Regions from separate parts of the Homo sapiens genome. Here region 2 is linked to region 1. Evidence: fine-mapped expression QTL. A gene starts in region 1. The other region holds a variant in brackets. All regions are shown on one strand. Distances are from middle to middle.

Region 1 (5,369 bases):
CAGAGAAATTGTAAGAAACTTTCTGCATTGCTCAGACCCACCGCAGGAAACCTAAGCAGTAAGCAGACGGGAAGGCCCCCATTGGAAGCAGGATCTACTCATGCTTGTTTTCACTTTTCCGTGGTCAATTTTTAGGGTAGAAACCCCAAAGCAAAGGGCAAGGGGGAAGAATGGGGACCTACTCCCACTACATACCAAAAAAACGCAAGTGAAGTCACCCAGCCCATTTTCCAGCAGAAAAGGACTTGGGCTGCACCCCTGCACACCCTGATTCCACCTGCCAGCCTCCTGGCCGCACGTGTGTGATCCTGCTGGGCAAAACCAGAACTCAGCTGCAGCAGCAACTCCCCACACTAATCAGGTGGGAATGTTACCAACTGGGATGAGGAGGGAAAGGGTAAGTGGAATGTGGGTGGAGGTGGAGGAGGGAGGAAAACCCTCCCCAGTCTTCAGGCTGCCCAAAAGGATCTTTCTAAGCAATCCACAAATCCTGGGCCAGCTGGGTTCCCCCAGGAGAGGGGAGGATGTACCATGCAGGCCCCAGGGAGCCTCTTACAAGGGTGACCTCAGGTCACACAAACACCCTCAGCTGCCAACTGCACTGACATTCTGGTCACCACACCCCCACTCTGACCTCTAGGCTCAGCCCAGCCCACCAGCAGTGCCCCTCCCGGCCCTCACTGCCTCCCCTGCCAAGCTCCTACCTCCTCCCCCTCCTCACCACAACACGCTGGTAGAGTCCCTCACCCAAGACTCAGTGGAAAATTTCCTTCTCCTTTATGACTGTACTTAAAACACACACGCTCCATTCTTCACCTCTGAATCGACACAGGCAGAGGGCGGCAAGGCTGTCCCACCCCACCGCCCAGCCCAGCCCAGTGCACACACACACACTCTCCCAGCAGAGCCACTGGACTTGCACGCTTTATGGGCTGGAAAGGAGGAGAGAGATGTTTCCCAGATGCCACTCCACCTTTAGCCATCCAAACACAAGTGTCCCAAACACTCCCAGACAAGCCTCCCAGGATGCTCTCGGGGCCCTCCATACACACTAAGGAGTAGGAGGTCTCTTTACAGGGTCTCTCTACTCAAGACACTAAGTCCAGTCTGGAACTGTCACCGTGATGTGACCCTTGGCAGGTTTGTTCTTTTGGTGACAAATCTGTTTTCCACTACCCATTCTCCCCCTCCCCACACACATTCAAGGGGGAAAAAAATAGCCTTCCTGTGAATTTTCACAGCTATGTGGTGAGTGACCCCTCGCACCTTCTGCTGGCTATCAACACTCTCAAACACAGTGCCTCCAGGGCGTGGGTCAATGCCACAGCTTTCTCCTCATTTTCCCCCTTAAATCCACCCAAACTTGGCAGTCCCAGAAGCTCGGTTAGCGCTTGCCTGGGAAGCCTGCAGCTGGGTTGGGTCTCAGTGAAAAGAATGAATTTCATAGGCGCAGGAGATGATGCAGACTCGGAGTACTCCAAGTTTCTCCTGCAACTTTCCGTGCACATGGCGGGCAACTTTTTTTTTTTTTTTTAACTATTCAATTTCCCAGCACTTTAGTTAGCATTCCAAGTTTTGGGAACCCTTTCCCCACCCTTCTCTTCTAGCCCTTCCTCCGTTAGTAGTGAATGGGGACATTTTCCAGATGTCAAAAGGACCGGTAGGAACCTCACGACCTAAGTTAGGAAAGCAAAGGCGGCCAGGGGCTCCCTCAGCCACTGTGAGTTTCCTCTGCAGGGCATCTTCCCCTCTCAGCTATGCCAGCGCCCCCGCCCAAGGACATCGAGTTTCTCCACTCCGCCCCAACCCCGTCTGCCCCTCTCCTGGGGCAGAGGAAAGGAGTGGGGCTCGCCCTGCCTCCCTAAGCAGCGCTGCAGTCCTGGCTGCAGCGTGGGGCTCGGGCGGGGCACCAGGAGCGCTTACCGATGTCGGAGTTGCAGAAGGCGTCCTGGGGGTGGCTGGGCGAGCATGTGCACGCCTCGGCGCCCCAGTCCCCCAGGCTCCAGCTGCCCAGGAGCACGATGAGCCCGAGCCAAGGGGTCATTGCCGCTGCTGCCGCCGCTGCCGGGGCTGCTGCTCGCCTCTCCAAAGTTGCCGTGCGCGCCGCCGGCGGGGCTGCTGCAGCCCGAGCTCGCTCGCCCGCCGGGCCGTGCGGGGCAACCTTGGCCTCCGGCGCGCTGCCCTCCGAGTGCCCGGCGGGACGGGATGGGGCGCAGCGAGGCTGCCTCGGCGCTGGCGCAGGACTCGGCGGGCGGCCTCCCGGCGAAGGAGCAGGAGCTGGAGGAGCAAGAGGAGGAGGAGAAGCCGTCTGAGCGCCCGCCGCCTGCCTGCTGCCCGCTCTGCGCCGCTGCCTGGGCGGCCGAGTGATATAGCGCTGGGCCCCCGGGGACCCCGCCTCGGGCTGTTGGGGCCCGCCCCCTCAGACCAATGGCAGAGCCGCATTACCTCATCGGCCCTCCAAAAAGGGGGCGGGGCCGGGGGCAAGGGGTAACGGGGCGGGGCCGCCCCCGGATCGTTCAGATCCTTATAGGGAATAATGCCGCCGTGGGCACGCGAGTGGGTGGGCTGGGGCGCGCCCGGGACCGGTGCTTGCCGCTGGGTCCTCGGAGCGGAGCCCTCGTGCCCCTTCTCGTCTGCGCCCTGGCCCCACGCCCACCTGGGCCACTGGGTGTCTCTGACCCAAACCAGAACCAACTAACACCCACCCACCCCAGCAGGACCGCTTCCACAGGTGAGGGGTGGCCATGTCCTAGAGACCTTGACTGTGCTTGGTGGAACCAGCGGGGGAATGCTAACTGCTACCCCTCCAGTTTCTCTGGAGAGAGCAGGCACAGAGGAGAAAGACCCAAACTCTCTCTCTTTCTCTCTCTCTCTGGTTCTTACTCTCTGGGATATGGGAAGCCATCTGCTGTTTGCAGCTGGCTATGATATATGATAGAAGACTGTTTTCTGTGCTCTCCCAGAGCAAACGGGGTTCTGTATTCATTCAACAAACACGGTTCAGGATGCTGGGTTAAGCAACACAAAGCCCTTGCCCCCGTGGACATCCATGAATGCACAGGGTGATTTTCTGTGATGCTAGGGCTATGAAGAAAACAAAACAGAGTTCTGGGTTGGACATGACTGGGGAGGGCCTGCTCTCTCTGCGATAGTAAGGGAAGGGCTCCCTGAAGTGCCATCCTCGCTGAGAAGTGGACAAAGACAAGGATCAGCTCTGGGGCAAGCCACAGGAGAGAGGTACCAGGCAGGGGGAACAGCAAGTGCAAAGACCCTGGGCATGTTTGAAAGACAGAAAGTAGAAAGGCAAGAGGAAGTGGTTCCCTGCCCATGGCTGACAGAGCTCCACCCTTCAGCAAGGGATTTGGGGGTGAGCTGATCCAAAACTGTAGTAAAACCAGGAGAACGATCCAGGATCCTAGACGACTAGCTATAATAGATGATTGCAGATAACTAACACAATTACTATCCTTATTATTGACATCTTGATTCTGCTTTGTATTTTTAAAAGCAGGATTCTGTATCTCACCGTATTATAGCTCTCACAATAATCTTTGTGGGTAGGAAAAGCAAGCACAAGTATCACTCCCACTTTCCAGATGAGGAACCGGCACAGAAAGATGGGATGATTGGTGGCCAGCCAGGAACTCGTCACCCCTTTCCACTGCTCCTTCCCATCTGAAGAGAGACATGCATTTCCCTGAACGTCAGCAGCTGTTCCATCTAACTGCAAATGGCCATTTGCAGCTGGGATCTTCCATCTTTCTACACTTTTGTCTCTTTCCCTTTCTCTTCCGCTTCATCCTGTTAGAAATGCCACAAGTTTGGAACAAATAGAAACAGGGAGAAATGCAAGTTCAGCTTCTTTCTCAGAACTCCTCTGTTTACATCTCAGACAAGTGACATTGGGACAGCAGAGGCCGAAGAATTCGTGAGAGATGGTATTTCCAAGAACATTTTTGAAACTCCTTTTTCCCCTTTGAGCACTTTAGCCATAGGAAAGGGAAACCAGTTTCCACATCTTTTTGACTTGTCCCCTCCACCCAGCTTTAAAAACCTTCCCTGCCTTCACTCTAACTGTGGCCTAACTCGTAGAGATGTTTCTGTCTCTCGATGTTTTTCTAGCACTGTTTTCATTGTTTTATGGGGTATGATTCTATTGCTTCCCCAACCACAGTAGGAATACTTTGAGGCCTGGGATATTTAGCCACACTGCTTTTTAGCCCTCTCAGAACCAAATAGGGTCTCAGGAGACTGGAGAGCATGGGTGTGGCCAACAGCTGACTGAGTCCTGAGCAGAGTGCCCTGGAGGCCACTCTAAGGATCCAGGTTGAATGAGGGCATACGTGGTGGAATTTGAGAGATTCGCTTATCCCCGCGCCCCACATGACTTATTCCACAGTCATGTGGAAGGTTTTAGAAGACTTTCCAGACCAAATCCACTTTGGATAAGCATCTTACATGATAGAGGCCCTCTCTTCCCTTTCTTTTCACATTTCAGTTTTGTCCAAAGTGCCGATATTTTCTCCAACGGAAGGCCTTGCCTGGAATATAAGTATCAAGTAGATAACTTCTGCTGAACTTCAAGCAGCAGTTTTCTCATAGAAAGCATCTGAAGCGTTTTTTTCCAGCAGCTACTTAATTATGAAAGCACAAGTATAATCTGATCTTTTTTCCAGCTGAAAAGTAACGAAATTACCTTTTGGTTAATTTCTTCTCACTCCCTATCCTAAGCTGGTCCACACAGTGTCTTGAAGTTCAGCGAATTCCAAGAGCTTTTCAGTTGGGATGTTCTCTCTTATTCCAAACCTGAGTCAGTTCCCCTCTGCCCACCGTGTGAAGGCAGTTTGGTTCTCACCCTAAGGAAAAGAAACAGCAAACTCCATGAATCCTTGCGTAGGGGAGTCCTCCTGCTAGGGTCACCCCCTTCAGCAGGCACCCATCAGTCTGGATGTCATGGTGTCCATGAGCCTAATAATATGTAAGAATTGGTTATTCAACATCACTTAATAAGCTAGGTGGGGTGAACCTGAGGCTAACAGTAAGAATGAAGATGCAGGCTGGGTGCGGTGGCTCACGCCTGTAATCCCAGCACTTTGAGAGGCCAAGGTGGGCGGATCACGAGGTCAGGAGATCGAGACCATCCTGGCTAACATGGTGAAACCCCGTCTGTACTAACAACACAAAAAATTAGCCAGGTGTGGTGGTGGGCGCCTGTAGTCCCAGTTACTTGGGAGGCTGAGGCAGGAGAATGGCGTGAACCTGGGAGGCGGAGCTTGCAGTGAGCTGAGATCATGCCACTGCACTCTAGCCTAGGTGATGGAGTGAGACTCCGTCTCCAAAAAAAAAAAAAAAAAAAAAAAGAATGAAGA
Region 2 (5,369 bases), 220 kb after region 1:
AGAACTTAAAGCTAAGACCTCTACCTGAGATCTTCCTCTGCCACCTCCTGCATCTTCACATCATCCTTGGTTCACTGGAAAGAGCCCTGGCCTGGTTTGGGAAATCTGGGTCATCCTGCTAGCCTCACACTCCCTGGGGCCAGCAGTAACCACCAGTGCCAGTCACTTAAACCTGTAAATGCAATTTTCCCTTATTTCATGATTTTCCTCACCCAATCACTTGGGAGAGCTAGTGAATAAAAGTGCATTAGAAAGTCTAAAGCTTCATAGAAATAGGAGATGGGGAGATAAGCAAAAGAGAGTATGGGCTTTGGGCTTAGACTGGCGCTGGGGAAAACCAACTGATGCTGGGGTTCTGAGCTTGGCTCAACTGTTTGCCAGCATTGTGACCTTCAGCAAATTTCTTAACTTCCCTGGGCCTCTGCTTCTCTGGGATAGCTCAGAGCAGATTACATGGATGAATAAGGAAAGAGAAGGAGGATAGTAACAATTCCCAAGTGCCCGTACACCACGATGAGTGCCTTGTGCATCTCCTCTAACCTTCAGAGGTATTTCAGAGGTATTTCTGATCCCTGTTTTATAGAGGTGCCAAGAGTCATTCTGCCCAAGGTCACAGGTAAGTGGTGAAGCAGAATTTGGACTGAGATTGACAGCCCTGTTCTGCTTGCTGCCAGGGACCCTCAGGAACACCCTGGTGTAATCATCTCTTCCCAGTACAAGGCAAGGAGCCAACTTAATTAGAGAGTTTATTTATAAAGAATTTCACAAGGCCCCACCCAAGAAACATGTCAGTACCTTTGAGACCAGCACTGACCTTTTGCATATGAACTGCTCTTGTGTTTTGGTCAACTGATCTCACACCAGGCCTGAAGCCAAAACCAAGAACATTCATTTCAAAAGAATGATTTAAACAAAAAGAAAGAAAGAATACCACCCTCTGGCACTGTGTTTTAAAGACAGTGTACACCATCTATAAGCCCCATTTTGTCAAGAGGGACAGAGGCCCAGGAACAGACTCATTTGGAAGAAATAAATTGTCTGTTCTTATGAGCACTGATGCAGAGGACCCCTCCATGAAAAACAAAGAATATCAATTTTTTTTAACTGACAGACATTGAAAAGCAATAAGATTTCCTTTTTTCTTTTCTCTGTTTTCCTGGTCATGTCTGTTGAGCCATCCTGACACTGCATCTAACAAAGGCCAGAGAATTCTTCCCCTTAAGAGACCCTCAGACAGAAGTGGGGCACACATCACCCGGTGGGGTGGGGAACATTATAATTTACCGCACTCCAATCACCAAAAGCTCCTTGCTGCTCCCCGGCATCAGACAGTCACATACAATTCACAAATTTGTAAATTTTTGAGGCTCCCAGCAGTCCTTTGAGGTGGATATTGCGTCATGATGTCATCATAATAGGTTTGTTTGCCCGATGCACAGTAAGTCAATAAACCAAGGCAACAGGGATTGCAGCAAAGAAAGAGTTTAATAATCATACGGCAGCCAAACAAGGAAACAGGAGGAAACCTCAAATCCACCCCTCCAGGGAGTTGGAGCTAGAGATTTCAAGGGGTTTGAAGTGGGCCAAGGTCCAGGATTATTGATTGGTCAAAGAGTGCAGAGTAAAGTCATGGGACAGGGAAATGAAGAAACTGCATTCTCGTGCTGATTCGATTCCTCTGTGGTTGTTTTCAAACTGGTTGGCATTAGCTTTCCTGCTGGAATTCAGGATCTGAAGAACATCTTAGGCAATTCTTAAACAAAAGCCTTATGAGTCCATGGTCACTGATCGTAGCTATAGGAACAATGGGGATATAAATCAATTCGTAAACAAAAACCTATGATTCTAAGGTTAGAAATCCTAGGTATAGGAACAATGAGGATGCAGATGGTCAGTATCTAGTGCTACCTGACTCTCAGTTACAAGGAAGTGGGCCAAAGTGTGGCCTGATTAGTGCTTAATAGAACTATATTTCTGCACAGGACCCAGGATGTAATTTTTGTTATCCCTGTGAGGACCGTTTCAATGATACTCATTTTACAGATGAGATAAGCAGAGATCAAAGAGGAGAAATGATTTGCACAGGGCTGCATATCACACGCACACGTTCTTCCCACTGATTCTGGCATCCATGCCAGGGGAGGTAAGACTCCAGAGAGTTCTGCCAGGCCTTTTGGAACACAGCCTATATGTCTGCTGAGGGCTTCTCTAGCCAAAACGCTCAGGCACAGCCCATTCTTACCATCAGCAGGCAGGAGAAGCATGATCCTAAAACCAGGGGAGGCCCCCTGCCCTACTGAGGCGTGGGGCACAGGGCAGTCTTCCAGCAAGCTTCCTGGAAGTGAAACCAGCCACATCTCTGGAATCTTGGAAATAGCTGTACCGGGGAGCAGTTGGCATCACTGCCGACAGGTGGCCATGGCAGGCTTGTTTTCCAGGAAGACCACAGATGATGCAGACAATGGGTTTGTTACATTTTGGGGTGTGTGTCTGTCCATGTGTTGGGGGTAGGGGAAGCAGCTTTCTAAAATACAAACATCTGCCTCCATTAAGCCTCCAGATCAATAGGACACTAGCGGCAGACCCTGATCTCTTGCTTGACTCTTGGTCTTCACCCCCAGGAGACCTCCATACCAATAGCTCTGTCCTCCAGGGGTGAAGCTGGAAGA[C/T]AAAGGAGGCACTGTGATGGGCCAGTGAATGCTGCTCAGCCTTGTTCACGTCATGACACTCCTAGAAAAGAGTGGTAGCTATACAACTCAGCAGGTCGATGGAGGAGGCTGCTAACAGCTGAAGAGAAGGACCTAGAGGCCCCTGGCCACTCTAACAGATAATGGATCAGCAGCCAAGGGCACCGATTCAGATGATCTGGGCAATGGGCCCTGAAGTCAGACGGTCCTGAGCTCTTCGGTAGCCTTGCTGCTCAGTGTGCCCTATGGAAGTACTGGCAGCATCCGTATCACCTGGGAGCCCCTTAAAAATGCAGAACATAGGCTGGGCACAGTGGCTCACACCTGTAATCCCAGAAGTTTTCAGGAGGCTGAGATGGGAGAATCACTTGAGTCTAGGAGTTCAAGACCAACCTAAGCAGCATGGTGAGACCCACCCCCACCCCCAGCCCGTCTCTACAAAAATTAAATAAATAAATAAATAAAAATTAGCTGGTTGTGGTAGCATGTGCCTGTGGTCCCAGCTACTTGGGAGGCTGAGGTAGGGGGATCACTAGAGCCTGGGAAGTCGAGGCTGCAGTGAGCTGTGATCACACCACTGCACTCCAGCCTGGGCAACAGAGTGAGACCCGGTCTCAAAAAAAAAAAAAGGGAGAATGCAGACCTGTTTCCAGACCTGCCAACTCTGAATCTACATTTTAACAAAATGCACAGGTGATTTGCAGGCTGTTCTGCATAACCACTGGTTTTGACCAAGGGATGCAAACTCAGATGCCCAAGGGACCAGGCATTACCATGAGTCAGAAGCCCAGGCTGGGAGTTCGAGGCCATCCTGCAAGAGAAGTCACAACTTAGCCCCAGCCAGGGAAGCCTGATTTCCAGATTCTTTTATAACAATCAATTCTCAGGCCGGGTGTGGTAGCTCACGCCTATAATCCCAGCATTTTGGGAGGCCGAGATGGGTGGATCACAAGGTCAGGAGTTCAAGACCAGCCTGGCCAACATGGTGAAAACCCATCTCTACTAAAAATATAAAAATTATCCGGGTTTGGTGGTGCACGCCTGTAGTCCCAGCTACTTGGGAGACCAAGGCAGAAGAATTGCTTCAATTCTTCAGGAAGCGGAGGTTGCAGTGAGCTGTCATCACACCACCGCACTCCAACCTGGGCCACAGAGTGAGACTCTGTCTCAAAAAAAAAAAAAAAAAAAAAAGAAAGAAAGAAAGAAAAGAAAAGAAAAAGAAAAAGAAAAAAAGAATCAATTATCTGGGGTCTCCAATATCCAGACTCCTTATTTTTAAATATTGGCAACTAATTTAAAAATCTTTTGAAACACTGTATACGTCAAATAAAACAGCCACCCACTTAGGGTATCTTAGGGAGCCAGTTTAGTGCCTCCAGCTTCAGACAGAAGACACTGAATTTGGCCTTACCCTCTCTGTATAGGGGACCATTGAGCTTAATGGTTAAGGCCACAGGATGTACAAAGGACCTAAGAGTTTAAATCTGACTCAGCCAATTCCTAATTATATAACCTTGGGCGAGCACTTGACGTGCGATCTTTGTTTTTCTCACCTGTAAAATAGCCCCAGTTGGCCGGGAGCTACGGCTCATGCCTACTATAATCCCAGCACTTTGGGATGCCAAGGCGGGCCGATCACCTGAGGTCAGGAGTTCGAGACCAGCCTGGCCAACATGGCGAAACCCGTCTCTGCTAAAAACATAAAAATTAGCTGGGCGTGGTGGTGGGCGCCTGTAGTCTCAGCTGCTCAGGAAGCTGAAGCACAAGAATTATTTGAACCTGGGAGGCAGAGGTTGCAGTGAGCCGAGATTGCACCACTGCACTCCAGCCTGAGTGGCAGAGCGAGACTCAGTCTCAAAAAATAAAAACAAAACAGGGCCAGTAAATGTCCCTAGTGGAAAAGGGATTAACCTAAAGACTGATTGAGGTAACGCACTCTTAAAAAATTGTAGATACTTAAGAGATGTTGATTTGCTTCCTCTAGCGCCTGACTGTGCACACAGATCACCCAGGGGATCTTGTTAAAATGCAGGCTCTCATTCACTAGATCTGCAGTCCCGCCTGCCTGGGGTTCTGAATTTCTAACAAGCTCCCAGGTGATATCAATGCTGCTAGACCATGATCTAGGCAAGGGTCATCAAAGTTTTCTGCACAGAGCCAGATGCTACCTATTTGAGGCTTTGCAGGGCACATGGTCTCTGCTGAAGCTACTCAGTCAGCTCTTGTAGTGGGAAAGCAACCACAGACAATACGTAAATGAATGGGCAGTGCTATCTTCCACTGGAACTCTACTCATGGACACTGAAATTTGAATTTCATATCATGTTCCCACTTCGAATAATATTGTTCTTTGATTTTTTTTCCCGACTACAGTAGCTCCCCCTTATTGGCAAAGGATACATTCCAAGACTCCCGGTGGAAGCCTGAAACCATGAACAGTACCAAACCCTACATTTACTGGGTTTTCCTATACATACACAACTGTGATATAGTTTAATTTATAAATTTAGGCACAGTAAGAGAGAAATAATAATAAATAATAATAAAATCAGACAATTATAGCAATCTACTGTCACAGAAGTCATGTGAATGTGGTCTCTCCCTCTCAATATGTCCTGCTGTATAGTACTCACCTATTTTTGGGCCATGGTTGACTGCAAGTAACTGAAACCACAGAAGGTG

Which allele goes with the higher level. Positions count from the first base shown, and alleles are read on the strand shown. Sizes are in standard deviations (SD) of each study's normalised expression.
For the expression in fibroblasts of the gene that starts at base 2,341 in region 1, C is the low allele of the variant in region 2 and T is the other (small effect, 0.16 SD a copy in GTEx).

The links.
Region 2: its variant is fine-mapped to the expression of TIMP3 in fibroblasts (GTEx, PIP 0.94).

Annotation. Positions count from the first base shown.
Region 1 is chr22:32,798,677-32,804,045 of GRCh38, reverse strand. TIMP3 (TIMP metallopeptidase inhibitor 3) reads right to left here and starts at 2,341. Exons shown (of 5, transcript NM_000362.5): 1 at 1,924-2,341. The coding sequence starts at 2,044. The region is part of intron 6 of SYN3 (synapsin III); the gene reads left to right.
Region 2 is chr22:32,580,302-32,585,670 of GRCh38, reverse strand. All of the region lies in intron 7 of SYN3 (synapsin III), which reads left to right. SYN3-AS1 (SYN3 antisense RNA 1) reads right to left here. Exons shown (of 4, transcript XR_001755503.2): 1 at 5,321-5,369; 2 at 1,285-1,794; 3 at 25-172. Among named protein-coding and RNA genes, the nearest start is that of SYN3-AS1, 8.0 kb to the right of the region's middle. The variant C/T (reference allele first, on the strand shown) is at 2,670.